Homo sapiens: one gene and its partners. The protein of the gene in region 1 interacts with the protein of each later gene in a biochemical or structural test. Each region holds a gene or a part of one and is shown in the gene's direction. Other genes may lie near its edges. The genes, in order: PDZRN3, ARHGEF12, LRP4, HTRA4, JAG1, MTMR1 and NRXN3.

Region 1 (4,244 bases):
AAGAAAATAATATTCATTGAGTTCCACTGGGTGCCATACACTTAAGGTGCTTTCTGTATGTGCATACATTATCTTCTCCATGTTCTTCATTAGATAGACCTCTTTTTTTAATGGGAGTAGCAGATTATGAAAGATTAAGGCTAGAAGTTAGATTCTAAATGTAGAGCTGGGATTTGAACCCAGTGTGGCCCATCTCCGAGCTCACACTGTTACCAAAATAAGAAAAGAATTTTTTCCTGGGGCGGTGCCCTTCTCTGAAGTCTCACACAGGCTTTCAAAGCACCATTATTATGTATGCCAAGTACTGTTTGGATTGGAGGTGTACATGCATTATTTTATTTCATCCTCAGAAAGACCCTGCAAGGTCGGTGCTCTTACCCATGACTCTTTCCTTCCATTTTACAGATGAAAAAACAGAAGCTCAGAAAGTTAAATAACTTGCCAAGTGTCCTCCACTGGCTCATGTTAGTTTGCCTGTTGGCTTCTGGTCCATGAAATGTTTTCATCCCATACCATGTTCCCATTTACATAGGTCCAGTGTAGAGCACATGGAGTACAAAACAAAACAGATCCTGGCTGTGAAAGAGATTTAGGCTGGGCATGGTGGCTCACGCCTGTAATCTCAGCAGTTTGGGAGGCCTAGCCGGAAAGATCACTTGAGGTCAGGAGTTTGAGATCAGTCTGGCCAACATGGTGAAACCCAGTCTCTGCTAAAAATACAAAAATTAGCCAGGTGTGCTGGTGCACACCTGTAGTCCCAGCTACTGGGGAGGCTGAGGCAGGAGAATTGCTTGAACTCTGGAGGCAGAGGTTGCTGCGAGCCAAGACCAGATCGTGCCAGTGCACTCCAGCCTGGGCAACAGAGTGAGACCCTGTTAAAAAAAAAAATAGATTTAGACAAAAAAGAGATGATGTCCTGGATGGAATATGAGAACAGCTCTTTAATTTTTATCCTGGTAATTTTAAGAGTGGTTAACAGTAGGAATGAAGTGAAGTTCTTCCAAATGTATTCTGCAGTTTAGCTCCTCACATTCTCATACCCCTAGTGCCAGGCCCTGTGGTAGGCACCATTGGATAGAAAGGTAAAACTGAGCAGCTTTAACCCAGGGGATCAATCAGACACCCACATATGCCTTTGAAAGCACAAGTCTTACTATTCTTTGCTCACCCAAGCTTTTATGCCATGGGTTAGCCTCTGTCTCCCCTTGACTAATAGTGTCCTAATAAGCCTGTTACAATAAGAAAGGGAAGTGGTATAACATAATGATTACTCTTGTAAAGAAAATAACTACCAGATGGACCTGAGCAGCCATCTTTCTCACTCATTCCATCCATATATTTACAGGGAATTTAAAGAGCAGAGGCACCGCGTAATCTTTGTATGTTGCAGGCCTTGCAGCCACCCCATCCCCAGGAAGGGCAGTGATGAGCTTTTCCCCTGGCATCAGCAGTGTGTGTGCAGAGAAGAGTCCTGGGCAGGAGATCACCCCTAGTATTTTGCTAAAAGCTGTTTTTAGGTGCCCCGTGTCTTTGCTGTGTTTGGATAGGTGAGGGATGAAGTCCCATCAGATCGTGGGTGAAGGTTAGATGCAGGCGTTGGGTCCACAGGCTGACTCCAAGGTGCCCTGAATAGAGCTAGTGTATTGCGTGTGGTTAGTATCCATATCCTGGGATCAGCAATATTCGGGTTCATGTGTTCTCTTTGCCCTGTTGTTGAGGGCCCCTGGGAGGCTCTTCTAACCTTCAAGCCTTAATTGCCTCACCTCTAAAATGGGATCATAATATGCCTGTTGTTAGGGTTGTTATTAAGATGAAATGAGATGATGTACATAAGGGCACAGTAAGTCTTATCAAGCATTTCTTGACTGTCTATTAAGTGCTGGACACCTGTAGGATTTTAACATTTTTTCAAATAAATCACTGAAGAAAGTTTAGGAATTTAAAGCAGTTGTTATCTAGAAGAAAAGAGATTGTTACTCAATAATTTGGTTTCATTGTAAGCCTCCTGCTGCCCCTGAGTAACCCATTCTCTGGATTTCTATCCTCTGTCTGTTTTGCAGTGGTGGAAATGTGTGAAAGAGGGATATTCAAGTTCATTTGGGCTAAGATGTAAAGGTGGAGGGCTAAAGCTTATGAATAACATATGGGTTACAGAGTTGTTTATGTTTTTCCCACCCAAATTAACAAAGCTATGGAGAGACTGGCCAGAAAAACCTCCTACCTTCATGTAAGCAAGTGCACTTATGGTTTTTTAGATGAGTAGCCTTGCTTTCTATCTTAGTCTATTTGTGTTGACATGAAGAAATACCTGAGGCTGGGTGATTTGTAAAGAAAGAGGTTTGTTTGGCTCATGGTCCTGCAGGTTGCACAAGAAACATGGCACCGGCGTCTGCTCAGTTTCTGATGAGGGCCTCAGGCTGCTTCCGATCATGGCAGAAGGCAAAGACTAGCCTGCATGTGCAGAGATTACATGGAGAGAAAGGAGGCAATGGAGAGAGAGAGGAGAGAAGTTCCAGGCTCTTTTAACAACCAGCTCTTGCAAGAACTAATAGAGCAGAGCTCACTCTCTGCCCACCACCACCCTGGGACAGCATTAATCTCTTCATGAGGTGTCCACCCCCATAACCCAAACACCTCCCATTAGACCCCACCTCCAATGTTGGAATTAGATATCAACAGAGATTTGGGGGGACAGTCATCCAAACTATAGCACTTTTTTCTTTATTTAGGGAAGAAAATGCTTCTGGTTGGTAATTGGATGTATACATTTGAAAACCACTCTGTCTTAGGCCATTTAGGCTGCTGTAACAGAAATACCAGAAACCACTCTGTCTTAGTGCATTTAGGCTGCTGTAACAAAAATACCAGAAATTGGATAGCTTATAAACAACAGAAATTTATTTCTCGTAATTTTGGAGGCTAGGAACCCCTAGATCAAGGTGCTAGCAGATTCAGGGTCTGGTGAGGACCCACTTACTGGTTCACAGATGGCTGTCTTTCTGTTGTTGTGCTCACATAGTAGAAAGGGTGAGGGTTTCTCTCTTGGGCCCCTTTATAAGGGCACTAATCCCTAATCACGTCCCAAAGGCCCCACCTGCTAATACCATCACTTTGGGGATTAGGATTTCAACATATGAATTTTGAGGGCACATAAACATTTAGATCGTAGCACACCCCATAAGTAAGTGGAAGTGTTAAGATGCTGTAACACCTTAAAGGTTTGTTGGTGTCATTTTTGGTGAAGCATTGCTTGTGGTTGTTCACCAGAAAAGCAGATGAGTCAGTGACAAAAATGAGAGAGAAAATTTGAAATCAAGCTCGTGGAAATAAGAAATTAGACATTTATGGATTTTTTCAGGTTGTGTAAATATAGTAGCAGACTTTTTTAAACGAGGAAAGTACTGAAACGTCTTCTCATATTAGTTTTCAAAAATATCTCGTTTGGCTTAGGACCATGTGAACTATTGTGCAGATATTATGACTCTGGAAAAGCTCTTGTTTTTTTTTCTACCTGTTCCCCCATGCCCTTTGTCTCCCTTCATTCTCTCTACACCTTTTTCTGATGACAGAAACATCCTATTAATACTTTTGTTGAGTGTCTCATCCAATTTCAACTTAATTTCAAGCACCGTCCTTATGACTACCTTCAGTCTTAGGCTTTGGAACAGTTTCCTCTTATGTTCTTCTGCAAGAATCACTTCCTTAGAGCTGGGTTGAATTACAAGGCAGGGCTGGTCCAAACTGCTTCACCATTAAGAATTTTAAAGTTTTAACTACAAAGAGGACAAAAGCATCTGAGCATAGGGAGTGAAGACATCAGCAATTCTTCAGTAAAGAATTTCTGGCAGCCAGCTCTACCTCTTGGTCCCCTCAACTCCCATCTCTGCACATTTTTGCCTGGAAACAGCCAAATATACAGTGCTTTCATGTCACTAGTCAACAGACAGAGCTGTTTCCCAGCTGTGTGAAGACTAGTGAGTCTTTGTGAACTTTGCATAATCTGAGGCTGCGAGGTGTTACATCACACAGACTAGCGGTCAGTCAGTTACATTTCTCAAAACCTACTGGGCAGCTTTCCAGTCTAGCCAGTTCTCTGCTGTGAGTCCCACAACAGACATCATTAGGGAACACCTGTCCTTAGGCAGAAAAGGAGTTTTTAAAAAGAGTCCACATTGACAGTGGCGTGGATGGACCCTGTGAACCACCACACTCATTAGGAGATGTCTTGTGTCCAAGCTTTTGAG
Region 2 (4,244 bases), on another chromosome or scaffold:
CATGTATTTGGAAATGATATTGTGGGGGAATGTACATACCCTTTGATCCAACAGTTCTGGAAATTTATCCTACAGATATCCTACATGGATGTACAAAGACATATATTTAAGTCCACTTTATTACAGTATTGTTTGTTACAGAAGAGTTGAAGTAACTTAAATGCCCATCAGTAAGGCGTAATGAAATAAATTATAGTTTATTCAGAGAGTTTTACATCCTGTAGTCATTTATAAAAAAATGAAATAACTCTCTATATGTGCTAATGTGGAACAGTCCCCAAGATATAAGTCATACACCACACACACACACACGTGGGGGAATACGTATATGAATGTATTCTACCATTTCAATGAGGAATACATATAGGAATACCAAAGGAATGCATATATGAATATATTATGCTACCATATCTTGTTTTAAAAAAGGACATATACACACAACATGCACAAAGACAAGCATACTTATATATACATATATAAATAAATACATATCTGTTTGCATAGAATTTTTCTCAAAGGCTACCCAAGAAATGGATATTAGTGATTGCTTCTTTAGGGAAAATTGAGGGGGGTGGGGCAATAGGACAAGGTTAGAGGGAGACTTTTTATTTTTTGCCTTATATAGCCATCTGAATTTTGTACTGTGTGCATGATTTACATATTCAGAAAATAAATATAAGCTAATAAGAGACCAATGACTTTGAAAAGAAGATTGAGAAAGAAAAGCCAAAGAGGCAGGAGGAAAACTAGGAGAGTATATTATCACCAAAGCCACGGGAAGAGAGTGAGTTTTCAGTCCTGTCTAGCATTGCAAAGAGCTCAGTAAAATGGAGATTTTTTTTTTTTGAGATGGAGTCTTGCTGTGTCGCCCAGGCTGGAGTGCAGTGGCGTGATCTCGGCTCACTGCAAGCTCCGCCTCCCAGGTTTGCACCATTCCCCTGCCTCAGCCTCCCAAGTAGCTGGGACCACAGGCGCCCGCCACCATGCCCGGCTAATTTTTTTTTATTTTTAGTAGAGACGGGGTTTCACTGTGTTAGCCAGGATGGTCTTGATCTCCTAACCTCGTGATCCACCTGCCTCAGCCTCCCAAAGTGCTGAGATTACAGGTGTGAGCCACCACGCCTGGCCAAAATGGAGATTTTAAATGCCAAGTTTGATTCAGAAATAGAGAGGTCATTAATGACCAAAGCACTAACCTTGGTTCCACCCTGCCTAATTTTCAGCGCCTAGAAGATTATCAGCGTCGCCTTGATACCTCCAGCCTGAAGTTGTCAGAGTACCCAAATGTTGAAGAGCTCAGGGTGAGAGATGGTCTAATCATAATTTAAAAAATAAAATAAAATTTGCTAAAGACCTGGCAGGTAATTAACATCTCAGTGGGAATATACGTCACCTGAAGGAGTTCTTGTATCGTAGATTATCTGTATTTATGATTTTTTTTGCTGCCTTTTAAATGCTTGATCTGTATGAAATTAGTTTTTCATTAGAGGAATATCTTGCATAAAACTGTAATATTACATGACAGCAATTGGCAGGAGACTAAGGGACACTAATTATTATAAAATTTAATTTTATTGTGTTCTGTAGTTTGTTTCAGACAGGGTCTTGCTCTGTTGCCCAGGCTGGAATGCAGTGGTGCAGTCTTGGCTCACTGAAGCCTTGGCCTCCTGGACTCAGGCAGTCCACCCACCTCAGCCTCCCTAGCAGCTAGGACTATAGGTATATGCCACCATACCCAGCTAATTCTGTGTTTTGTAAAGACAAGGTCTCGCTGTGTTGTCAGGTTGGTCCAGATTTCCTGGGCTCAAGTGCTCCTTTCTCAGCCTCCCACAGTGCAGGGATTACAGGCATGAGCCACTATGCCCAGCCTGTGTTCTGTAGTTTAAATAAGGGTAGGACTGTTTGGTAACTTTCCAGATCATTTAATAACACAAGATAGCATACTATTTTCTCATGAGGCTCTTCAGAAGCATAAAAGTTGGAACCATTACAGGAACGATAGTAAAATGTTTACTAATTGCCACTTCTAGTATGTGGGCTTATGTGTTAACTTTTTCGGATTTTAAGTGTTTTTGTACCATTTCACTAGGTGGTGGTTTTGGCAGATTTATTTGGTGGCTGTTAAAATAGACTTTTATGTCATATATTAATACTTCGTCAACAAGCACGTAAATGTGCTTATTCCCCTTAGCTTCCAAAGAATGAGAGTTTTCTAGAGCTGCTAATACTAAAAGATGATTCTCTTACTAATAAGTTGTTAATATTTAGACCAAGTCTGAGTAGTACCTGGACTTTTCATGAGTACTATTTCTTAGAACTTTCTTTGAAATTAGAGCCTTGGAACTCAGAAGCCACTTTCTTATAGACAAGCATATGTACCATGCTCATCCAGTTATTCATAGGAAAATTAAAGGATACGTTGAGAATCTAGTGACTGAATGTTTGTAACTTGATCTTCATAATCTGTTATCATCTGTTTAGAGTGAGGTTTGAAGATAGTACTCCTGAATGTTCTTCTGCAAGATACCTTTTCCTTTTTAGAAAATTGTATGCAGATTACTTTAATATGGCTTTTGTGCCATTTTCAAGAACTGACAAATAGCAATAATGATAGTTGAATGTAAATGGTGTATTTTATATTAAGAATTTCTTTAAAAGAGACTGTATTATATAGATAATCATGTTACTGAGTGCTTGGAAATTATTTGTGCATGATTTTCTTTATTTTGCCAGAATTTGGATTTAACAAAAAGGAAGATGATTCATGAAGGGCCATTGGTTTGGAAGGTGAATAGAGATAAAACTATTGGTAGGTCTGATATTGTCTTTTAGTTTTGGGGAGAGTGGCAAAAGGGAAGGAATAGGAAAGTTTCCTATGACAAAGGGAAGAGGAGAGAACCATTCTCTCAGCAGTTTGCAGTGCTACCTCGTGTTATTTGTACATTTGTAGATCTGCTTGTGTTATTTCATTATATGTAAGATGTGTTAAATATTCATTTAGGAATGTAGTGGAGAACTGATTTAGTCCTATTTCCATCATTCTTATAGTCTAGTGAGTCTTTGTATGCTTTGTAAGCTTTCTTTAGACCAGTACATCTTAAACTGTCTGTGATGAGGAACCGTTTTTGTTTTTTCAGAAACAAGGTCTTTCTATGTTGCCCAGGCTGGAGCACAGTGGCTAGTCACAGATGCAGTCATGGTGCACTGCTGCCTCGAACTCCTGGGCTTAAGGGATCCTCCTGCCTTAGCCTCCCTAGTAGCCGGGACTATAGGCGCACAGCACCACACCCAGCTTGTTGTTTTTTATTTCCTATTGGTCACAGACTGACACTTCAGTGAAATAAAATAAAAATGAATTACTGAAAATGAAATTTTAAAAGATAATATACAAGTCAATTTTTAAAATTTTGTAGCTTTAACAGAAATAGAATTCCTCTGTTGAATCATTATAAAGTTAATCAAACGCGTCTCCATTTCTGTACTTACCATTTTTTTCTGCACTTTTATTTCTAGATTTATACACGTTGCTGCTGGAAGACATTCTTGTATTGTTACAAAAGCAGGATGATAGACTGGTTTTAAGGTGTCATAGTAAGATTCTGGCATCTACAGCTGATAGCAAACACACGTTTAGCCCTGTCATTAAGTTGAGTACAGTGTTGGTTCGACAAGTGGCAACAGGCAAGTATGTCCACTGAAGGATACTAATTTCCAGATTCATTGTGAAGTTGCATAAGATACTCGGTGCTGTCTCAATAACACAAGTGGCATAGAGTCTTGCTATTTTTATATTCTTAAGCAAATTACATGAAATTTACTGCTTAGAAAGAGACCTAAGAGTTTATACCCCAAAGTTATTAGGGTGTCTCGATTCTGTGAACAGTTTTCTGCATTTGAAAATTTTTATGCTATTACTTTGGTTCTTTATGTTCAAATCATTGATAGATCCCAATGAAAAGCCTTTCATTTAGGGTGGTATGTTTTTTGATTTGGTGAGAAAAAAATCAAAAACCAAAGAGACGGATGTAGTGTTGATTAAAAATCAAATTTGACTGGCAAGTTATATTTTAACTCTATTAACAACGGGGTCCCTTTTAAAACTTGTTAGTTTCATGGTGGCAAAATAAATTTGTGACCTCTTTTCTCCACTACTCACTGAATATTATTAACTAACAACTTAGCAAAAGTGCAGTTCAAAATAAATGCAAAAGAGTAATAGCATTTAATCTGGTAATTTGGATTTA
Region 3 (4,078 bases), on another chromosome or scaffold:
GAACTCCTGAACTCAAGTGATCTGCCCGCCTGGGCCTCCCAAAGTGCTGGGATTACAGGTGTAAGCCACCACGCCCGGCCAGATAAGAGGATTTTCTAGAGTCCCCTGTCTTACCTCCCAAGTTTTCTCCTTAACAAAATTAGAAAAAAGAGATACAAACTAGCACCCGAAGTAGCTTAAAATCCTGAATAAATGTACATTTAATTGCTCTTGCCAATTGCTTTTGATGATTTATATCAGCATGATGTCCCATTAATAAACCACAGTAACAATGTAACATAGCTAACATGTTATAGTGCATCTTGTGTCAAGCTCCCTGATAACTGCATTCCATGTATCATCTCATTTAAGGTGACAGCAGTTGGTTGTGAGGTGTGGATACTGTTACTCTCCTCACACTGCAGAGTCTTAAGAGACTGAGTTTTAGAAATGTGAAATAATTTGCCTAAGGTGACAAAGCCAGTGAGTGGCTGCTGCAGGACCGGAAGCCATGGTTTTCCCTCCTCCTGTATGGTAATGGTAATAATTATCACAGCTGCCTCTCCCCTTTTAGGCTAGGCCTCATACACTTGTCTTAATCACATTTCCCCATTTGTTTGTGGGATTTTTGTGCGCTTCACTCCTACTCTTACCCCATCCACTTCCTTTTTCAGTTTACCATGGGATCCTTTGTAGAAGGCCAACTGACTGACCATATCTGCCCACTCTCCACCCTAGGGAGGGCCTGACCATAACTACACCAAGGAGAAGATCAAGATCGTAGAGGGAATCTGCCTCCTGTCTGGGGATGATGCTGAGTGGGATGACCTCAAGCAACTGCGAAGCTCACGGGGGGGCCTCCTCCGGGATCATGTATGCATGAAGACAGACACGGTGTCCATCCAGGCCAGCTCTGGCTCCCTGGATGACACAGAGACGGAGCAGCTGTTACAGGAAGAGCAGTCTGAGTGTAGCAGCGTCCATACTGCAGCCACTCCAGAAAGACGAGGCTCTCTGCCAGACACGGGCTGGAAACATGAACGCAAGCTCTCCTCAGAGAGCCAGGTCTAAATGCCCACATTCTCTTCCCTGCCTGCCTGTTCCTTCTCCTTTATGGACGTCTAGTCCTTGTGCTCGCTTACACCGCAGGCCCCGCTTCTGTGTGCTTGTCCTCCTCCTCCTCCCACCCCATAACTGTTCCTAAGCCTTCACCGGAGCTGTTTACCACGTGAGTCCATAACTACCTGTGCACAAGAAATGATGGCACATCACGAGAATTTAGACCTGGATTTTACCATGAACCTCACATCTTGTACTCCATCCTGGGCCCCCTGAAACTGCTTATTCGTGATTCCTCACCAGCGTAGAGCTCCACCTCCCCTTTCCCCAGTACCCTCAGTGCCTGCTTCTCAGTGCTGATGCAGCTGATGACCCAGGACTGCGCTCTGCCCCATCACAGCCAGCATGACTGCTTCTCTGAGAGAACTTGCCCATCAGGGGCTGGGACATGGGGGTGTGGGTAAAGACAGGGATGAAGGATAGAGGCTGAGAGAAGAAGGAAGAATCAGCCCAGCAGGTATGGGCATCTGGGAAACCTCCAGCCTCAAGTGTGTTAGTAACATGAAAAAGCTTTGGGGGGTAGTTGGATCTGGGTGTCTGGTCCATTGCTGGCAGTGGACATTATTCTTGCCCTAAGAGACACTGCCTTTTCAGCAGCAGATACTGGTGAGATGGGGGTGGCTCAGGCTGTTCTTCCTCCTCCTAGAATGTCTGGAGCTGTTTCTACATTCAGATAACTGGGTCCCCTATCACAAGGCTACTGGCTAATAGGAATTCCCTCCTGGTGCCACCACTGGCCAGTACCTTTCCTAAGTCTTTGCTCAAATTAACCAGGTTGTGAGCCAGTGGCTTGAGTGAATGTTAGGCCTTGGGGGCTGAGTCTCTGAAAAGTCTAAGAAGCTCTGCCTAGACCAAATATGGTATACCTCCTGACCCCTCTCTCCCTCATGTCCTGGGATTCTGGGGAAGAGACCTAGAAACAAGCTTTCAAAGAAAAACCAGAAGTTGTCATAAATGGTCAGAAAGAACGATCAGGTTGGAGACTTGGGAAACCCAGGGCCTAAAGAGAAGTATCCATGAGGGTCAAACTTCCTGTTGAACTTCCTATGTTCTTTCTCAAGTGCTCAGGGATCTAAGTTAGTGGACAGCAAGCCTGTGGCTACGGGGTGGTGATGTTCCTCTTCCAGCTGTCCCCTCAGCTAAGGGGCTTAGTTTCCATGTGGGATGCCATCACTTGGTTCATGCTCATTCACACAAAGGGCACGTGTCTCAGCCTGGTATCAGGGAAATTGAGACTTATTTTTGCCCTAAAACGTCTCCCTAGCTGTTCTTCGTGGGGTTTTTTTGTTTGTTTTTTTGCCTAATTTGCTTTTTCTGACCAAGCCTTGTGGCACCAGCAATCTCCAAAGTCCTGTGGTGGGAGGGCTGAATAAATAAAAATACAAAGAGGTGGGTAAGGAGTAGGAAGGTAGAGAGCACCACTGATGAGGCCCTCCTAGCCCATGGCAGACCCAGACCTCTTCTCCCCCAGGAATTAGAAGTGGCAGGAGAGAACAACAGGGGCTGGGAATGGAGGGGAGAATTTCTAGGGGAAGTTTCCTGAGTTGAAACTTCTCCTGTGGTTACTGGTATTGAGAAATCAGCTACCAAAGTGAAAAAGGACAAGATCAATTCTTTTCTAGTCAGTTCTAAGACTGCTAGAGAGAGATACCAGGCCCTTAGCCTTGCTCTCAGTAGCGTCAGCCCCAGTTCTGAGCCTCCCCACATTACACTTAACAAGCAGTAAAGGAGTGAGCACTTTGGGTCCTTAGACTCACGTCTGGGGAGGAAGAGCAAGTAGAAAAGTGGCATTTTCTTGATTGGAAAGGGGGAAGGATCTTATTGCACTTGGGCTGTTCAGAATGTAGAAAGGACATATTTGAGGAAGTATCTATTTGAGCACTGATTTACTCTGTAAAAAGCAAAATCTCTCTGTCCTAAACTAATGGAAGCGATTCTCCCATGCTCATGTGTAATGGTTTTAACGTTACTCACTGGAGAGATTGGACTTTCTGGAGTTATTTAACCACTATGTTCAGTATTTTAGGACTTTATGATAATTTAATATAAATTTAGCTTTTCTTAATCACCTTGCCTGGCTTGGAGTCATGACTAATCCTGCACCTGCTCTGTCTGGCAGACCCATGCTGTGGAAAACCTGCTTACAGACATCACTTTTAAGTCCTTTGTGGATGTGGGCACAGTGAAGAGCAATAAAGAGTGTGAGGTTCCTGCTGGAGTTTTCAGCTCATCTGGAGAAGACAGGTCGAGGCCAGAGTTCCTTGACTGATGAAACCTTTATTTCCTCTGGAAGAGGAATGGTAGATGGGTTTCCTCTTGAGTGCTGACTCTGACTGGTTGGTAGTGGCTGCCTGAGGGCCTATTCGCACCCAATGGGAAGAATGTCATATGGCTAGTGACATCTCTTCTGTGCACTGGAAGGAAATGTCATGGCATGTATACCATGTATCTTCTATTTCTGTTCTAGGTCTTTGTTACAGAACTTTACTTTGCCTTGCAGTGATGGTCACTGGCAAGACTATCTCATGTAGTAAGAAAAGTACTGGAGCTGGGGACATGGAGGGCTAATTCCAGTCCCAGATCTGCCACTAGCTCTGTTTGATCTTAGTCAACTTTCATAGTTAGTCTGAGAGTGGATCAAATTATCACTAGGATTTCATTTATTTTTAAAAGCTGTCTTTTCATAGCTCATCCACTACTTCTCAAGGCTAGAACAAGGAGCTAGGGATCCCTTCTCAGGTTCTCTGGATGTGATATCCCTCAGTGAAAACTGGGAATCATGTTAATCTCAACGCCCGATGTAGAATTTCATGTCAAGTCTCAATAGTTGATTTTCTAAACCACACACCATCTATAGGATAATATCCCCATTCATTCATTCATTCATTCATTCATTCATCTGCTATGGGCTAGGCACTGCCCATGCCTAAACAAAGACATAATCTTACAGAGCTTAGAGTCTAGCAACACCATTACCACC
Region 4 (3,212 bases), on another chromosome or scaffold:
TGTATTTTGGGAGGGAGGTGGTTCTCTATAGTCTAAGAAGAGCTCATGTTATGAGTTAATAGCATAAGTTTAAATTAATTTGGCTAGGAATTCCCAAATCTACCCTTTCAACATTAATAGTTATTACTTAATAACTATTAAGTGATTAACACCTATTAGGTATTAGTAACTATTAATTATTCATTAATAGTTTTTTTTTCTTTTGAGATGGAGTCTCACTCGTTGCCCAGGCTGCAGTGCAGTGGTGCAATCTTGGCTCACTGCAACCTCCACCTCTCAGGTTCAAGCAATTCTCCTGCCTCAGCCTCCCGAGTAGCTGGGATTACAGGCACCCGCCACCACGCTTGGTTAATTGTTGTATTTTTAGTAGAGACAGGGTTTCACCATGTTGGCCAGGCTGGTCTCGAACTCCTGACCTCAAGTGATCCACCCACCTCGGCCTCCCACAGTACTGGGATTACAGGCATGAGCCACCACGCCTGGCCATATTTTAGGTATTTTAAAACACATTTTTCGGCTGGGCATGTTGGCTCAGCCCTGTAATCCTAGCACTTTGGGAGGCTGAGGTGGGAGGATTGCTTGAGCCTGAGAGTTCGAGACCAGCCTGGGGAACACGGTGAAACCCTGTCTCTACAAAAAATAAAAATTAGGCCAGGTGCCGTGACTCACGCCTGTAATCCCAGTACTTTGGGAGGCCAAAGTGGGCAGATCACTTGAGGTCAGGATTTTGAGACCAGCCTGGCAAACTTGGTGAAACACCATCCCTACTTAAAAAATATAAAAATTAGCTGGGTGTGGTGTCGCATGCCTGTAATCCCAGCTACTTGGGAGGCTGAGGTCAGAGAATCGCTTGAACCTGGGCAGCAGAGGTTGCAGTGAGCTGGGATCACGCCCCTGTACTCCAGCCTGGGCAAGAAAGCGAGACCCCATTTAAAAAAACAAAAAACAAAAAACAAAAATTAGCCAGGTGTGGTGGTTTGCACCTGTGGTCCCAGTTACTTGGGGAGGTCGAGATGGGAGGATCACCTGAGTCTGGGCTGTAATGAGCTGTGCTCATGCCACTGCACTCCAGCCTGTGCAACAGAGTGAGACCCTGTCTCAAACAAACAAACAAGCAAAAAAAAACTACACCAAAACCTCACAAAACCTACATTTTTCTTTGAACTCTGAATGACAATATCAGAGGCCAGCGCTAAGACCTGTGTAATAAAGCAAAGGCTAGGACAGCTTCCAAAAGAAGGTTCTCCAGCTGATTTCACTGTTGTTTCAAAACATTTAATACTAAGTACTGAGAGAGGTGGCTTGTCCTACAAATATCATTCTCCTGGGCTTTTCTGTTGTACTTCTTTTTTTTTTTTTTTTTTGAGACGGAGTCTCGCTCTGTCACCAGGCTGGAGTGCAGTGATGCGATCTCGGCTCACTGCAACCTCTGCCTCCTGGGTTCAAGTGATTCTCCTGCCTCAGCCTCCCGAGGAGCTGGCACTACAGGCGTGTGCCACCACGCGCAGCTAATTTTTGTATTTTTAGTAGAGATGGGTTTTCACCATGTTGGCCAGGATGGTATCCATCTCTTGACCTTGTGATCCGCCTGCCTCGGGCTCCCAAAGTGCTGGGATTACAGGCGTGAGCCACCGCCCGCGGTCTGTACTTCTTTATTATCCCTTTCTCATTGTTTTTATTTTTCAAGAGCTCAGTAATCTGTTTAGATTATGGCACCACTTTCACTGGGGCTTTCCCCCTAGTGAAATCAGAGGGCACTGTTCAGCACAGCAGTCATAGGTCTCATGTTACTAAATTTGGCTTGTCCCTGGTTTCTCTGGACTTTTCTCATTCCTGCTCTGCTCCACTCTTCCCCCATTTCCTTAAGTTCTGGTTCAAGACCAAAGCTATTTCTTTCGGCTAAGTCCTTGCTACTCAGAATGTGGTCTGTAGACCAGCGTCATTAGCTCAGCTGGGGCTTGTTGGAAAGGCAGAATCCCAGGTCCCACCTTTGATCCACTGAATCGGAATCTGTGTGTTTAACAAGATCCCCAGGTGATTCATGTGTATGTTAAAATGTGAAAATTAGTGCTGGAAGTTGCTGATAAACAGAAATCAGGACTGGGCATGGTGGCTCATGCCATGATGTGGGAGGATCATTTGAAACCAGGAGTTTGAGACCAGCCTGAGCAACATAGTTTCTAAAGACAAATAAATAAAATAAACAAAATCAGCTGGGTGTGGTGGCAGGTGCCTGTAGGGAGGCTGAGGCAGGAGGATCATGTGAGCCCAGGAGTTTGAGGCTGCAGTGAGCCATGACTGCACCACTGTATTCCAGCCTGGGTAAGAGAGTGAGAACCTGTCTCAAACAAATCTATTCTTTCTGGCTTTCACTGACTTATACCTAATATAATGATAATTACACCACTATCTGGCACTTACAAAACTTTTACTATATCTCAGGCACTATTTGAAGTGTTTTATTTTTATTATTATTATTTTTTTGAGACTGAGTTTCGCTCTTGTTGCCCCAGCTGGAATGCAATGGCATGATCTCAGCTCACTGCAACCTCCGCCTCCTGGGTTCAAGCGATTCTTCTGCCTCAGTCTCCCAAGTAGCTGGGATTACACACCTAGCTAATTATTGTACTTTTAATAGAGACGAGGTTTCACTATGTTGGGCAGGCTGGTCTCGAACTCCTGACCTCAGGTGATCCACACGCCTGTGGCTCCCAAAGTGCTGGGATTACAGTGTGAGCCACTGCTCCTGGCCTATTTGAAGTGTTTTATACACCTGTTTGTGCTCCCAACATTTTATGATATAGGTATTATTTTATAGAGGAAGCAGCTGTGGTACAAAGAGGTTCATTAACTTGTAGAACGCAGTAAATCAGAGAGCAGAGAGCAGGGATGTGGGCCCTGGCTGAACCCTTCTATTATCCTGCTTTGGTGGCTGCTTTTCTGTTTCTGACAGGCAGAGTGATTTAGTGGCAAGAAGATGGGTTCCCAAGTCTGAAAGACCCAGGATGAAATCCCTCTCACAAGTTGCATGACACAGAAAAAGGTCATTTGTCCTGTCTGAGCCATAGTTCCTCATATTTGGTGCATAGGTTATTAGTAATAATTTGCAGGTTTCTTTTTCTCTTTTCTGACTCACAGGACTAGTATGAATTAAGTTCTCTATAAGTTCTTTCTTTGTACTCACTGGTCCTAAGTCATCCTCCTAAACTGTC
Region 5 (4,090 bases), on another chromosome or scaffold:
CCACCCTGGGATCATTGGTGTTGAAAGTTTTTTTTTTTTTTTTGAGACCGAATTTCGCTGTTGTTGCCCAGGCTAGAGTGCAGTGGCACGATCTCGGCTCACCACAACCTCGGCCTCCCAGGTTCAAGCGATTCTCCTGCCTGCCTCAGCCTTCCTGAGTAGCTGGGATTACAGGCATGCGCACCACGCCCACCACGCCCAGCTAATTTTGTATTTTTAGTAGAGATGGGGTTTCCCCATGTTGGTCAGGCTGGTCTCGAACTCCCAGCCTCAGATGATCCACCCCCCGACCCCCAACTTGGCCTCCCAAAGTGCTGGGATTACAGGTGTGAGCCACCATGCCCAGCAGTGTTGAAATTGTTTTAATCAGAAACAGTAAGGCTGGGGAGACTGGTTGAGACTTATCCTTACATCTGGGATCTAAGACTGAGGTCGTGTTCAATTTACCAGATCACTCTGCCTCGGAGCCTCCATATCTATGTTGGAACATTCTGGAATGTTGCTAGGTTGGGTGATTCCTCTTTTCTGTAGGAGTTTCTTCCCCACTTTCACCTAGTACCGGTGACTAAATGCCCATGTGAGGGCATTAAGTGGGTAAGGCACTCTCTGGAAGCTTCTGCTTGATAAGCCGCCTGTCTAATTTGAGAAACAGCCCTGATGGAGGGTAGCAGGTGGAGGTGCCAGGTGCATTGTGTCAGGAGGGAGCCATGAAAACTGCTGAACAGTGCTTGTCTATGGCTTCACAAGTCCTTCAGTTCTTTTTTTGCTTTACTTTGTTTCATAGATATTAATGACTGTGAGAGCAACCCTTGTAGAAACGGTGGCACTTGCATCGATGGTGTCAACTCCTACAAGTGCATCTGTAGTGACGGCTGGGAGGGGGCCTACTGTGAAACCAGTGAGTCTGCCACTCTTTGGGGAGCTCTGGGATGTATGGGTCATGTTGGAGGGATCCCACTTCAACGTGGGAAAACTTTCTTTGTACTGGAAATCTCTGGAAGCAAGACCGCAGTGATTTCTGCACTGGGACAGTATCACTTGTGTCTCATTTGCATTTATGAGTCCTGATGATAGCTTATGGGGAGGAGCTTCTGCTGAGGACCTATAGAATTAGACTGTGTAATAAATATTCCTGCTTGCAAGGAAAGTCATATTTCTACTTTCATTTCCATGGGACTTCCAGAGGCCCACCCCACATCTTGCCTAACTTGTGGCATTCAAAGTAACCCAGTTGGGAGCTCCTTTATTCCTGGAAAAGCCTGATTGTGTTAAAGTACTACGACTGTGGCTGTTCTCAGAATAGGATGTTGGATGTAAGCAGTAGGAAAGGCTTGGCTCTCGCCTGTCGTGAATGGTCCTGGATCTCGTCTTCAGCCGATTGTCTCCCCTTTGATTCTAGATATTAATGACTGCAGCCAGAACCCCTGCCACAATGGGGGCACGTGTCGCGACCTGGTCAATGACTTCTACTGTGACTGTAAAAATGGGTGGAAAGGAAAGACCTGCCACTCACGTAAGTGGTAGTTGGCCTTGGATGCTATCTCTGGGACCCTTCCCTCTGTCTTCTGTGGGAGGGGGCCACTGGGACTCACACTGAAATATTTTCCTCCAGGTGACAGTCAGTGTGATGAGGCCACGTGCAACAACGGTGGCACCTGCTATGATGAGGGGGATGCTTTTAAGTGCATGTGTCCTGGCGGCTGGGAAGGAACAACCTGTAACATAGGTAACTTTATGCCCCACGTGGGATCTGCAGTGGGCATGGCCACCTGGGCGTGTCTGCTGGTTGGCCCCTGGAGCTTATGATATTTCTCTGGGCCTGGTTCTTGCCCCTCCAGACTGTTTCTGGATACTCAGGGAGGGTGGTCGTGTCTGCTCTTCTTTTATAGCCCGAAACAGTAGCTGCCTGCCCAACCCCTGCCATAATGGGGGCACATGTGTGGTCAACGGCGAGTCCTTTACGTGCGTCTGCAAGGAAGGCTGGGAGGGGCCCATCTGTGCTCAGAGTGAGTGTCCTCCCCCCTTGAACTCTCCCAGGGCTGTCGGAGCAGATCCTGACACCCTTGGGGACTTGCAATGGAAACCAGAAGCAGAGCTGTTTGATGTCTGCTTTTGTATCACCTGGGTCTGCATTAATGACTTGATGGGATACAGCCCTGACCTGGGCATGAGAAAGTCGCCAATAAGATAAGTGGAGACAGATGGCGTCTCAGTTCCCAGCTCTGGGTCTGACCAGCAGCCTGTCTCCTTCCATTCTCACCCCCACCCCTATCCCCTACCAGGGCCTCTTCCTGTGTACATGTGTCCCACAGCAAATGAAACTAAGTGTGGTGCGGGCCTGGTTCCAATTTAGCAAAGGTATTTTGCTGGTGTTAACTACGACTTTATCATTTGGGTATTAGGAAAATAAGTGGTGGTTTTACTTAGGGCTAAGACCGCTTTCCCTGTTGAAGTCCTCACTATTAAGTTGTCTTTTCTTTGCAGATACCAATGACTGCAGCCCTCATCCCTGGTAAGTGTGACATCCTTTTAAGCCAGCACTCATCCACTATCGTGTGTGTGTGTGTGTGTGTGTGTGTGTGTGTGTGTGTGAGAATCACCCAGGGATTGTGTTTAAAATGCAAGTTCTGAGTCAGGAGGTCTGGGGTGGGGCCTCAGACTGCTTTTCTAACAAGCTCCCAGGTGAAGCGATCCTGCTGCCCCATGGACCACACTTTAATTAGCCAGGTTGTGTCCTCATTTAGAGCAGTGATTTTTCAACCTTGGCTGCACACCAGAATCACCTGGGAGCTTTTAAAAATCCCGCTGCCTGGGCTGCAACCAAGACCTGTGAAATTAGACTTTCTGGGGGTGGGACCCAGGCATCAGTATTCTTTTAAAATTCCCCAGGCAACGGCCATGGGGTGAGAGCCACTGACTGTAACTGGTGTGGTGACATGTGAGTGATTGGCAGCCAGAGTAATGGACTGGGAGGTTGGTAACCAAGGTGGTCTTTGCTTTCTTAGTTACAACAGCGGCACCTGTGTGGATGGAGACAACTGGTACCGGTGCGAATGTGCCCCGGGTTTTGCTGGGCCCGACTGCAGAATAAGTAAGGACTGTCTCCGTCTGGTTTTCCCAATGGCTTTACCGCTTCATTCCATGCCTCACCCCAAGACTTTCATCTTTAAAAACAAAGCCACCATTCCCTTTAAGTAGCTCTCATAGAGCAAAGGATCTCTCTCCTCCAGCTGGGATTAAGATATGCCAGGCTGGATCCTCCCAGGTACCTGCTGGTAGTTCCCTGGGTGGTGTAGCCCTCCTTGTTCTTGGGGAGAGAGTGCCAGTCACAGAATCTGATGATTAATCTACAGTGGGGTCCTGAAGAAAGTATGTGCATTTCCCCATGACTAACATGAAATTATGGGCAAGCAGATGTTAACCACAGCTACACTGGTATAGGATAAAGCTAATACAAACGGAAGGGAGGACGACTGTGGCTTCCAGAGGCTTGTCTGTGCTGGGTCTGATCAGGCCCTGGAGAAATGACTAAAACAGGAAAATAGGGGCAGGCAACGCAGTTTTTCAAGAGGCTTAAAGCATATTATTTTGAGCCTTTTCTCTACTTTTTTACAAGCCCTTTCTCTTACAGAACAAAAAAGGTGCTAGAGTAGTTATGGTTTGATTCTTGTACCCAAATTGTCTGAAATTTTACTGGTGCTTGAAATCCAAGTCTGGGATTAACTAGTCTTCAGCACTAGATGGGGGCAGGTTGTATCTGTTTCATGTTTCTAAATAAACAGTTGGCAAACTGTGGCCCAGGGGCCGTATCCAGCCCACTGTCTGTTTTTATAAATACAGTTTTCTTGGCACACAGCCACACATTCATTTATGTATTGTCTATGGCTACTTTCATGATACCACAAGAGTTGGATAGTTGTGACAGAGACTATATACCCCACAAAGCCTAAGATGTTTACTGTCTGACCCCTTCCAGGAAACTTTGCCAGGCTTGCTGTAAATTGCACTGTCAAAGGAATCAAATTAAAAATTGCTGCCTCCCAAAATGGTTCTCCACTGTTAGAACTCAGGATGGTGGTGGTCTTTGGGA
Region 6 (4,244 bases), on another chromosome or scaffold:
CTAGTAACTCAAATGTTTTCGGGATAGCAACCTCTTCAAATCTCATATCGAATTTAAACTATTATGTAACCCTTTGAAGTAAACCTTTTCCATCGAAGTCCAATTGTCCCTTGGTATCGGTGGGGGATTGATTCCAGGACCTCTGCCTCAGATACCCAAATCCATGGATGTCCAAGTCCTTTATGTCAAATGATGTAGTATTTGCATATAACCTAAGAACATTCTCCCATATACTTTAAATCATCTGTATATTGCTTATAATAACTAATACAGTGTAAACACTATGTAAATAGTTGTTATACTGTATTGTTTAGGGAATAATGACAAGAAAAAATGTCTGTGCATGTTCAGCACAAATGCAACCATCCTTTTAAAAAATATTTTCCATCTGCAGTTGTTCGAATCCTCCAATGTGGAACCCATGGATAGGAAGGGCTGACTGTATTTCTAATTAACGTGGACCTATAACCTAAGTGATTGTTTGTCACATCTCAGAGAAGTCAAGTGAAAAGCAGAGACCAATACATTTCCCCAGTTTGTTGTTTTAAGACTACGTTCAGAACAATGTGGATGGTCAGAGACTTCCTAAAGGGACAGCAGTGGCCCATAAATTCTGTGATTAAAAATGAGATTAAGTTTCTTGGCTATCTTGGAATTTTTATGTTGAGCTGGGCTTATTTGTTTATTTTGTACCCTTCTTCTAATAATTTAAGTAGAAATGTGTGTGATAACTTTAATCACGAAGTCATGTAGGACCCACTCCTAATTGATGTATTTTATTCCCAGTGACTTGACTTTGGTAATGTTTACCAAAAACCCTACCTGAAGTACCAGAAAAGAGATCCTGCCTGCAGGATCATCAGCGCCCCTTCCAAATTTTGGGTTAGGATTCCTTACAATCTATTTATTTTGATTCAATCTCTGAAGATAGCTCCCTCTGGTTGGTCCTAGACTGCGTTCAAAACCATTTTTTTTTTTTCCAAAGAACCCTTTACTCTTCCAGATCATGAATCTGTTGGCTTACTAAACTCACTTTAGTCACTCCCTGACAACTGTCCTTCTCAGGCAGGGTTCCCCATATGGAACAATGGCAAGCAGAGGGGTGACTTGATCGGTTCTGCAATTTTGAAACATGTCGTCCCCTTTCTCATGACGCTTGAGTATCTTCCCATTATCCTTAGACTAAAAGAAAAACTCTCCTTACAAGACTGCTCTGCCTGACCCACTTTCCTCTGCAGCTTGGTCTCGAACTGCCCTCCTCTCATTCTGGCCATCCCAGTCACATGGGCTTTCCTTTGGTGGTTCATACTTGACACACCCACCCACACACACACACACACACACACACACATCCCAGAATCTTTGCATGTGCTCTTTCCTTAGCTTGTAAGCAATCTTAAATAGCAAGTCAGCTCAGTCAGCCACCAAGGTGTATGTGTGTAGCCATGTAGCTTAGAGGGAGGGCATGTCAGGAAATTATGTTGCTTAGGCAGGCATCCTGGGGCTCTTTTACTAAGATATTTTTATGGCTGGGGTGAGCATTTGCTAACAACTGCTTTAAATGTTCTCTAACCTAGATTACTAAGGTAATGCTCCCAGCCTTCTCAGATCATGCCTAAGAGCTTTACAAGGTGTGGGGTTTATTTTTTAACAGGTGATATACAATTCAAAAGATACAAAAGCTGTGTATAGTAAAAAATCAGTCTCCTTCCACCCACCACCCTGCCACCCTGTTCCACTCATTTCAGGCACCCACTGTGGCCGATTTCTAATGTAACCCTCCACAGATAGCCTATGCACATGAGAATGTATGTATAGTCCTTCTTTGAAAACATAAGTGGGGCCAGGCGCAGTGGCTCATGCCTGTAATCCCAGCACTTTGGAAGGCCGAGGCAGTTGGATTACGTGAGGTCAGGAGTTTGAGACCAGCCTGACCAACATAGTGAAACCTTGTCTCTACTAAAAATGCAAAAATTAGCCGGTAGTGGTGGTGGGTGCCTGTAATCCCAGCTACTCGGGAGGCTGAGGCAGGAGAATTGCTTGAACCAGGGAGGCGGAGGTTGCAATGAGTGGAGACTGTGCCGTTGGAGCAGGATAAAGTATAAAAGGAGAAATGAATTAAAAAAAAATAATTTCCTTATTTATGGCACGGTATCTGGCTTATAGGTGCCTGATGTATGTTGAATAACCGAGTTTTGCTAATTGTTTAACAGGATATGAGGAACTTGCGGCTTGCTTATAAACAGGAAGAACAGAGTAAACTAGGGATATTTGAAAACCTCAACAAACATGCATTTCCTCTTTCTAACGGACAGGTAAATACACCAGAGTAAACCTTTTCTGCATGCATTTGTGGGGGTCCAAATATCCTATGTTTAATTATTCCTTTTTCCAGAGGTTTTTTTTTTTCCTCTCTTTTTTCCTCTGTTGGTGACTAATATTAGAATATTTGAAATTTGTCAGTTCTGGGTAATGCTTAAGAAAAGCTGCTACTTTGTTGCTGTAAAATTTACAGACTAAAATAGGAATCTTAATACACTCAGCTCATATTAGAATGAAAAGCTTTAATATTGGGTATATGATATAAAAAGAAATAGTAACATATGTGTTTTGTGGTTTTTGTGTCCAGGCACTATTTGCATTCAGCTATAAAGAAAAATTTCCAATTAATGGCTGGAAAGTTTATGATCCAGTATCTGAATATAAGAGACAGGTAAAGTATATTGCTTATCAAACTGAAAATAATAGGTTGAGCATCTTTTTCTCTTCTAAAAGGTTAGAAATGATGTGGTGGAGAAGAAACTTTTTCGAACAAGTTATGCACAGGTTTAACTGCTAGCTTATAGGTTCTCCATCTTTCCTTGATTCTCTCTTCTCCCTGTGCCAAACCTTAGACTTTGTCATGTTTGTTCATCCTGTTTCCAGAGGGTGAGTGGGACTCAAGGACAAGGACGGGTTTAAAAACCAAATTTGCCAGATGGTTTTTATTAGATGTTCTGGTAAAGAATTGATGAGTAAGGATCCAAACCACTGACTACAGTTAGATTCGAAGCATGTGGTGTGACTACATCTGTCTGATCCAGTGTTCCCGGGTCTGGGAACTCTTCAGTGCATTGTCAGCTTCAAATTATTCCACTAAGATCTTATTTTCATGACGTTTGTTTCATGACGTTGTCTCTACCTTATATTTGGTATAATGTTTTACGTTACTTATTTTAGACATTCGTAAGAGGTATCTGTGTTTCTAAAGGACTTTTGAGTATATTCTCAAAAATAACAGAGCTCATTATTTATAGAAAATAGGACAAGAAATATATAGAAATGTGATTCTAGCGTATAATTTTCATGTTTTAGTATGGTTTGGATATTCTTATGCTTCTTTAGATTTTTAGAAATGTCTAGGAAATGGGTTTTACCGAATAAATATATATATTGACTTTTAAGTTACAATAAACAATAAATTATAAACGGATTTTAGTTGCAAATAAGAAATGGATGTACTTCATGCTTAGTACTTTTTCAAAGTGTAAAGTCATGCATTTCACCCTCTTCTTCTTTCTCCAACACCTTACAGGGCTTGCCAAATGAGAGTTGGAAAATATCCAAAATAAACAGTAATTATGAGTTCTGTGACACCTACCCTGCCATCATTGTTGTGCCAACTAGTGTAAAAGATGATGACCTTTCAAAAGTGGCAGCTTTTCGAGCAAAAGGCAGAGTCCCTGTAAGTAATAAACATTGTCATTTATATAGGAATATATATTGCGTTAGATCTAATATGGAGAGATTTAAGACAAAAAAGAAACTAGTGAACAAAAATGGAAAGCAGAAAAATAAGCTTATAAACCTGAACATACCTTTGATTCTCAACAAATACCTAATTATATAAACAATCTGTTTGCTATGACTCCCTCTTTTACGATTTCCTATAACTAAGTATAAGGGGAACTTCAGTCATACCCTCAAAAAGTAGTAGAGAATGACAAAGGAGTAGCAACAACAAGTTATCATGCTATTGTATTACCAGTTGGCATTGCTGGTTTCACTGAATCATCCTAGAGAAAATGCTTCTTTCTTAGATACTGAGCATGATGCCATAGCTGCGTGGGAGGGACATCATTACAGAAGTAGTAGCAGACAGCTGGGAGTAATGGTTTGAGCCCAGAGTTTGCATCTGTTGTAATCCTGAGTCACTTGGCCACTGGAGGAAAATGAGAGGTGGGGTGGCAGAGTGTCAGATTTTA
Region 7 (4,691 bases), on another chromosome or scaffold:
CAGACCTTGATAGATTCATTTTGTTTCTCATGAGCATGATGCCGGGTACATGTGCTATTAAAGTTTGCTGGGTCAGGAAAGTGCTAGGATGCTGCAAGAACATCCAGTAAAGGGCAGAAATATAAGAACTACCATCCTTGGCTGGAGGCAATAGAGTACTGTGGCTAACAGGCAGGCTCTGGAGTGGGATAGACTTGAGTTCAAATTCATTCTTAGCAGCTTCCAGCTGTGTAACCTTGGGCACCCTCTCTAAAGCTTCAACTTTTAAGACTGTGGAATGGATCTCAACTGTCAAATAGCACAAACCTCACTGGACTGAATGAGATGACCCACGTAGTGGCATATGGTAAGTGCTCAACAGCTATTAGTGGATTGGTGCTGGTCCAAGGGAGGACATGCCAGTGCAGCCCTTAAAAAGGGAGCTGGAGAAGAAAGGAGTTTGGGGCTGCATTTTCACATAAGGTGCCAGGGCCTGATGCTGAGCAAAACCTTTGTATTGGGTGCCACCGACTGTCATCTCTTGTTTAGGTTTGACTGGGGAAACGTTTCCACAGACATGAACTAGTTTGTCAAGGCTGGCAAGGGATTTTCAAGGGTTTAGGGGTGCAGTCTAGGCTCAGAGCTCAGAGTGCAAGCCACAAAAGAGAGCCATCTTCCTGAGTCACCAAAACACTTGATTCGGGCCTCTGACCCTTAGCTGGCAGCCCCTTAGGATAGGATGGGCTGTGCCTGGGTCTGTCTTTGCTGCTAGGGGCTCTGAGAGAGGAAGCCCCATTTGTCACTTTCATTTCTATGTCCCCAGCCCCTTGCAGTATGCTTCATCCTAAGCAGGCATTCAAAGTGCTTGTTGAAGGAATAGATTTGTGTCCTAGTTACAGCCCTGACTTCCACTAGATGCTCAAAGATTGCCCTGATTTTGCAAGGAAGAGCAACTACTCAGGGAAACTGAGGCACACTTGTAGGTTAGAGTCCCTCAGTCTGCAAGGAGACACACACATCCTCAGCAGTGGGGAAGTGGTTTGGTTACTGAAGCTGTAAATAAGAATTTTGTCTTTATATTAATTCCTACTCTGATTCTAGGGAAGAACTCTCCTCTCAGGCTGGAGTAAGGGGAGAACTGAGCTCAGACACTGCCTCTTAGTTGTGGGGGCTGCAAACTGCCCCTCCCTCATGATATCTTCTCAGCTGTTTGCAAAACAGTCAGGGAGGAGGTGAAGCCCTGAGCCAGGCGGCCTGTCTGTCTCTTTAAATGCTGGGGTCTGTGTGGGAGAGGGAGGGGCCGGCTCTGGAGTGCGTGAAATTCCTGGGCTCCTCCAGCAGTCTCAGGCTCAGCGCTCAGCCCTACACATCGCCTCTTGCATGCAACTCACAGAGAGGGAGAGGCAACCTGTCCTCCCCTCTCTCAGCCTCGGCATCTCCAGCCACCAAGGACCTGCTTTTCGCACCTCCAACAACCCCTCCCTTCTACCCTGCCACTCCCTCCCAGAGAGAAAGGAAAAGGAGAGAGAAAGATTCTGGAATTTGAACCTACCCAAAGAGGAAACATACCCAGCAAACTCAGTTGATTAAACATCAAACAGACATACAGACAGATCCCAAATCTTCTGTTCAACTGGAAAGGTAAGGTTTGCGGGGAAAGGAAGGCAGTCAGGGCATGAAACAACTCAAGGTTCTTGTCCGTTCTGGGAAGAGGTTGCTCCTGAGAGGGTAGAAGTTTTCAGTTGGGAGCAACCAACCTAGATTTTCTTTTTTGAATACTGTATCCATGAGCCTTGGCTGACTGTGGAAATGGCTTTTCAACTGCCTTTCTTTTCCTTCAGTTTCTCCTGGAAGTTGGGTCCTTTTCCTCCAGATGTTGGAAAAGTCAGAGAATGTTTTAGATTTTTATCTTCTTCTTCTTTTTTTTTTTTTTTTTTTGAGTCTTTCTCCTATTTGCTTGAATTGTTAGTCTGAAATGATGTGTGCTCATCACTTCATTTTGGGCAGATACTTTTTTTTTGACATTTTGTAGTCACTTCCCCCCTCATTTATTCATTTATTTATTTGGGCTGGTTAAAATGAGAAACAGAAAGGACACTCTGAGGATCACAAGAAAACAAAATTGAATTGAGACAGGGATTTCCCTAGCTGTTGAGGAATTGACGTGTATGTGAGTGTGTGTGTGCTTTTTTTTTTTTTTTTTGAGGGGGTGTGAGGAGGTGGTCCTAGAGTCTAAAAATTCAGGTTGGACTCCTGTCTTGTGAAGGTGGGCATACTTGGAGAAGGTGAAAAGGGAGTGTGTGTGTGAGTGTGTGTGTGTGTGTGTGCGCGGGTGTGTGCTCCTGTTTGGATCGGTTACAAGGGAATCTTCCTCCACTGCCTTCCATTTGTTTATATTAATGATTTAGTAGCAGGCTTGCCTGAAAACTTCCACTCTGTGTAAGCACTGTGGGTTTTGCAAGCTCTCAGTGACCTTAAAGCCTGGTTCGATGTATTGTTTTTTCCAGGCATTGTGCTGTACCCAGAGTTTCAGCTCTTTCCCTCTCTCTTTTTTAACCACAAAACTTAACTGCTTTAGAAACATCATCCTGATGACAAGGAAAAAAATGTGTCCCCCCACCCCCCATCCCTTCTTAGGCCAGTGATGTAATACCAACCTAAGGGCTCGGCTGCTTTGCAGGTGACTTACCCTGTGATTACTTGTTAAAAAAAAATAAAATTTTCCCTTCCTCCATTAAATGTCTGCCTCTTTTAATTTGGATGTAGAAATATCATCATGCAATGAGAACATCATATTTTTGCTAACCATTATTGGGGTTTAGGTAAAGTAGGATTGCTCTTCTCTGATCTTTATTGTTAATACTTTTTTTTTTAATGCAAAGGTCAGAGATCATTGAGAGCTAGCTTAGGATGGAGCAAGATAGAGTCAGGGCAAATAAAAGAGCTGGTAGGACAAGAGCTGTCTTCTCCCCGCTTCCTTCGGTTCCCGCTTTGGGGAGATAGTTTTTCTTTTACCACTACAAGCCACCCCAACATTCTTCTTTCTTCCTCTCCGCTGGGTCCTGTGGATGGCCCTGGGAGGGAGAGGGGGCACTCCTTGTCACACCTGGAGGATGGTGTAATTTTGGGGGTCAGATGACCGTTTGCCTTTGTGATGAAGGTTCCAGTGGAAATTTGAACTCCCAGCACGCTGCGTGACTTGGTACCCAGGATAGTCTATCTGGGGGCACCTGGAGGTTAGTCTGGGGAGGCTGGAGAACTGGCTCTTTATTAATTTGCCGTTCTGGGTAGAGCCTTCCTTCATCGTTCAAGGGCTTCTGCATCGCCTTTCAAGTTAAAATGGTCCCGCTGGTTATGATGGGCAAGTTTACCTAAGGGCTACTGGGTATGTGGCGGAAGGATGGAGGGGAGTGAGAGGAGGCAAGGCTGGTATTTATTTTTTAATCTTCGGGCTTAATCTGCCTAAGTCATATGGGGCAAACGATATTTCAGACGGGTGCTGGTTGTGCAGATATTCCTATTGTTTGATTTTTTGTTGTTGTTGGGGAGTGGAGTAAGGGCTCTTGGCCCATTTTCTGCAGCCTGAGGTTCATCCTGCGAGTCAGTCTTCCTTCTGGAAGGGGGGGAAAAGGCTGGACACTGGAAGTTCGCTATTAAAGTGAGCAACAGGGCTGGGTTTATTTTTTAAAAACAACCGGACTGTGCGAATGCCCTTTTCTGGAGCTTTCTGGCCCTTTCTAGTGAAATAATAATTTAAAAAAAATTGCTTCTTGAGAAGAGGAGGGGGCAGAAATTAAAGGGATTCTAGATTTTGAGAGACAGCTACGTCTTTGCTTCTCTGGTAGTTCCCTATTATTAATTATTGGGGTTTTGACGGCGTTCTGGCCTCCGTTTTTGTTGATTTCATTTTAGTGCTGCGTTTCTCCTGACTATGTTGATGATTTGCTGCTTATATAAGGGAAAGGATGTATTGAGGTGGACTGATGCTTGGGGTTTTGAGATCGGCTACTGAGATTGGGTGGCGGTTGGTGTGTTTGTCGATGTGCATGGTAGGAAGGTCTTTTCTTTTGGGTGGTAGGGGATGAGAGAATGGTGGGAGAACGGTAGATGAGATGCTACAGCAAACGGGGATGTGGGGGGAGACGGAGGTGAGGTTGGAAGTCACCGGTTTGCAGAATTTCTATTCTGCACCCCCCTTTCTCTCGCTCCTGGAAAAAAAATCCATTATCTATAAAAACACATTATTCTTCAATTGGCCTTTTAGAGAAAAAAAAGAGAGAGGGAAGGGAGGGGTTAATTTGGTGAGGGGGCTTGGTCGTAATTAGCCCACTGCTGCAAAACTGAGATACAGAAATCCATCGGCACCAGCTTTGGGGGCATGGAGAGGCAGCGGAGAGATGGGGGACGGGTTGTCAGTCTTGGATGAACAGTGGAGCGGTCGGGTTGGCGTCTGGGCATTGTGTGTGCTTGTGTCTCTGTGTGTGTGTGAAATTTTTTCATCCCACCACCAATCTCCCCCTCCATCCTCCCCCAATTCTGCCATGATCTTGCCTTCTATTTCCACACACTGCTCCCCCCACCCTAGGCGCACCCCCCCTTCCTCCAGCCCTTTCCATCTTCATGAAAAAAATTCTGATTTTGATGGCTCTGCGGCTCTTTTTTCCCTTTTTCCTTGCTTTTTTTTTTTTTTTGCAACACAACAGTCGTGCGAT

Evidence for each region.
Region 2: the proteins of PDZRN3 (region 1) and ARHGEF12 interact in a test that uses a peptide from one of them, tested with the Homo sapiens proteins (one large-scale study listed by IntAct).
Region 3: the proteins of PDZRN3 (region 1) and LRP4 interact in a test that uses a peptide from one of them, tested with the Homo sapiens proteins (one large-scale study listed by IntAct).
Region 4: the proteins of PDZRN3 (region 1) and HTRA4 interact in a test that uses a peptide from one of them, tested with the Homo sapiens proteins (one large-scale study listed by IntAct).
Region 5: the proteins of PDZRN3 (region 1) and JAG1 interact in a test that uses a peptide from one of them, tested with the Homo sapiens proteins (one large-scale study listed by IntAct).
Region 6: the proteins of PDZRN3 (region 1) and MTMR1 interact in a test that uses a peptide from one of them, tested with the Homo sapiens proteins (one large-scale study listed by IntAct).
Region 7: the proteins of PDZRN3 (region 1) and NRXN3 interact in a test that uses a peptide from one of them, tested with the Homo sapiens proteins (one large-scale study listed by IntAct).

Annotation. Positions count from the first base shown.
Region 1 is NC_000003.12:73,614,354-73,618,597, reverse strand, and holds part of PDZRN3 (E3 ubiquitin-protein ligase PDZRN3), read left to right. Parts: intron 1-4,244. UniProt on the Homo sapiens protein: E3 ubiquitin-protein ligase. Plays an important role in regulating the surface level of MUSK on myotubes. Mediates the ubiquitination of MUSK, promoting its endocytosis and lysosomal degradation. Might contribute to terminal myogenic differentiation.
Region 2 is NC_000011.10:120,471,827-120,476,070, forward strand, and holds part of ARHGEF12 (rho guanine nucleotide exchange factor 12), read left to right. Parts: intron 1-1,223; coding exon 1,224-1,301; intron 1,302-2,733; coding exon 2,734-2,809; intron 2,810-3,513; coding exon 3,514-3,681; intron 3,682-4,244. UniProt on the Homo sapiens protein: May play a role in the regulation of RhoA GTPase by guanine nucleotide-binding alpha-12 (GNA12) and alpha-13 (GNA13). Acts as guanine nucleotide exchange factor (GEF) for RhoA GTPase and may act as GTPase-activating protein (GAP) for GNA12 and GNA13.
Region 3 is NC_000011.10:46,855,955-46,860,032, reverse strand, and holds the end of LRP4 (low-density lipoprotein receptor-related protein 4 precursor), read left to right. Parts: intron 1-717; coding exon 718-1,050; 3' UTR 1,051-3,316; downstream 3,317-4,078. UniProt on the Homo sapiens protein: Mediates SOST-dependent inhibition of bone formation. Functions as a specific facilitator of SOST-mediated inhibition of Wnt signaling.
Region 4 is NC_000008.11:38,983,816-38,987,027, forward strand, and holds part of HTRA4 (serine protease HTRA4 precursor), read left to right. Parts: intron 1-3,212. UniProt on the Homo sapiens protein: Serine protease.
Region 5 is NC_000020.11:10,642,779-10,646,868, reverse strand, and holds part of JAG1 (protein jagged-1 precursor), read left to right. Parts: intron 1-784; coding exon 785-898; intron 899-1,399; coding exon 1,400-1,513; intron 1,514-1,612; coding exon 1,613-1,726; intron 1,727-1,889; coding exon 1,890-2,006; intron 2,007-2,484; coding exon 2,485-2,512; intron 2,513-3,005; coding exon 3,006-3,091; intron 3,092-4,090. UniProt on the Homo sapiens protein: Ligand for multiple Notch receptors and involved in the mediation of Notch signaling. May be involved in cell-fate decisions during hematopoiesis. Seems to be involved in early and late stages of mammalian cardiovascular development.
Region 6 is NC_000023.11:150,727,896-150,732,139, forward strand, and holds part of MTMR1 (phosphatidylinositol-3-phosphate phosphatase MTMR1), read left to right. Parts: intron 1-2,213; coding exon 2,214-2,315; intron 2,316-2,629; coding exon 2,630-2,713; intron 2,714-3,574; coding exon 3,575-3,724; intron 3,725-4,244. UniProt on the Homo sapiens protein: Lipid phosphatase that specifically dephosphorylates the D-3 position of phosphatidylinositol 3-phosphate, generating phosphatidylinositol. Could also dephosphorylate phosphatidylinositol 3,5-bisphosphate to produce phosphatidylinositol 5-phosphate.
Region 7 is NC_000014.9:78,169,055-78,173,745, forward strand, and holds the start of NRXN3 (neurexin 3), read left to right. Parts: upstream 1-1,318; 5' UTR 1,319-1,620; intron 1,621-4,691. UniProt on the Homo sapiens protein: Neuronal cell surface protein that may be involved in cell recognition and cell adhesion. May mediate intracellular signaling. Functions as part of a trans-synaptic complex by binding to cerebellins and postsynaptic GRID1.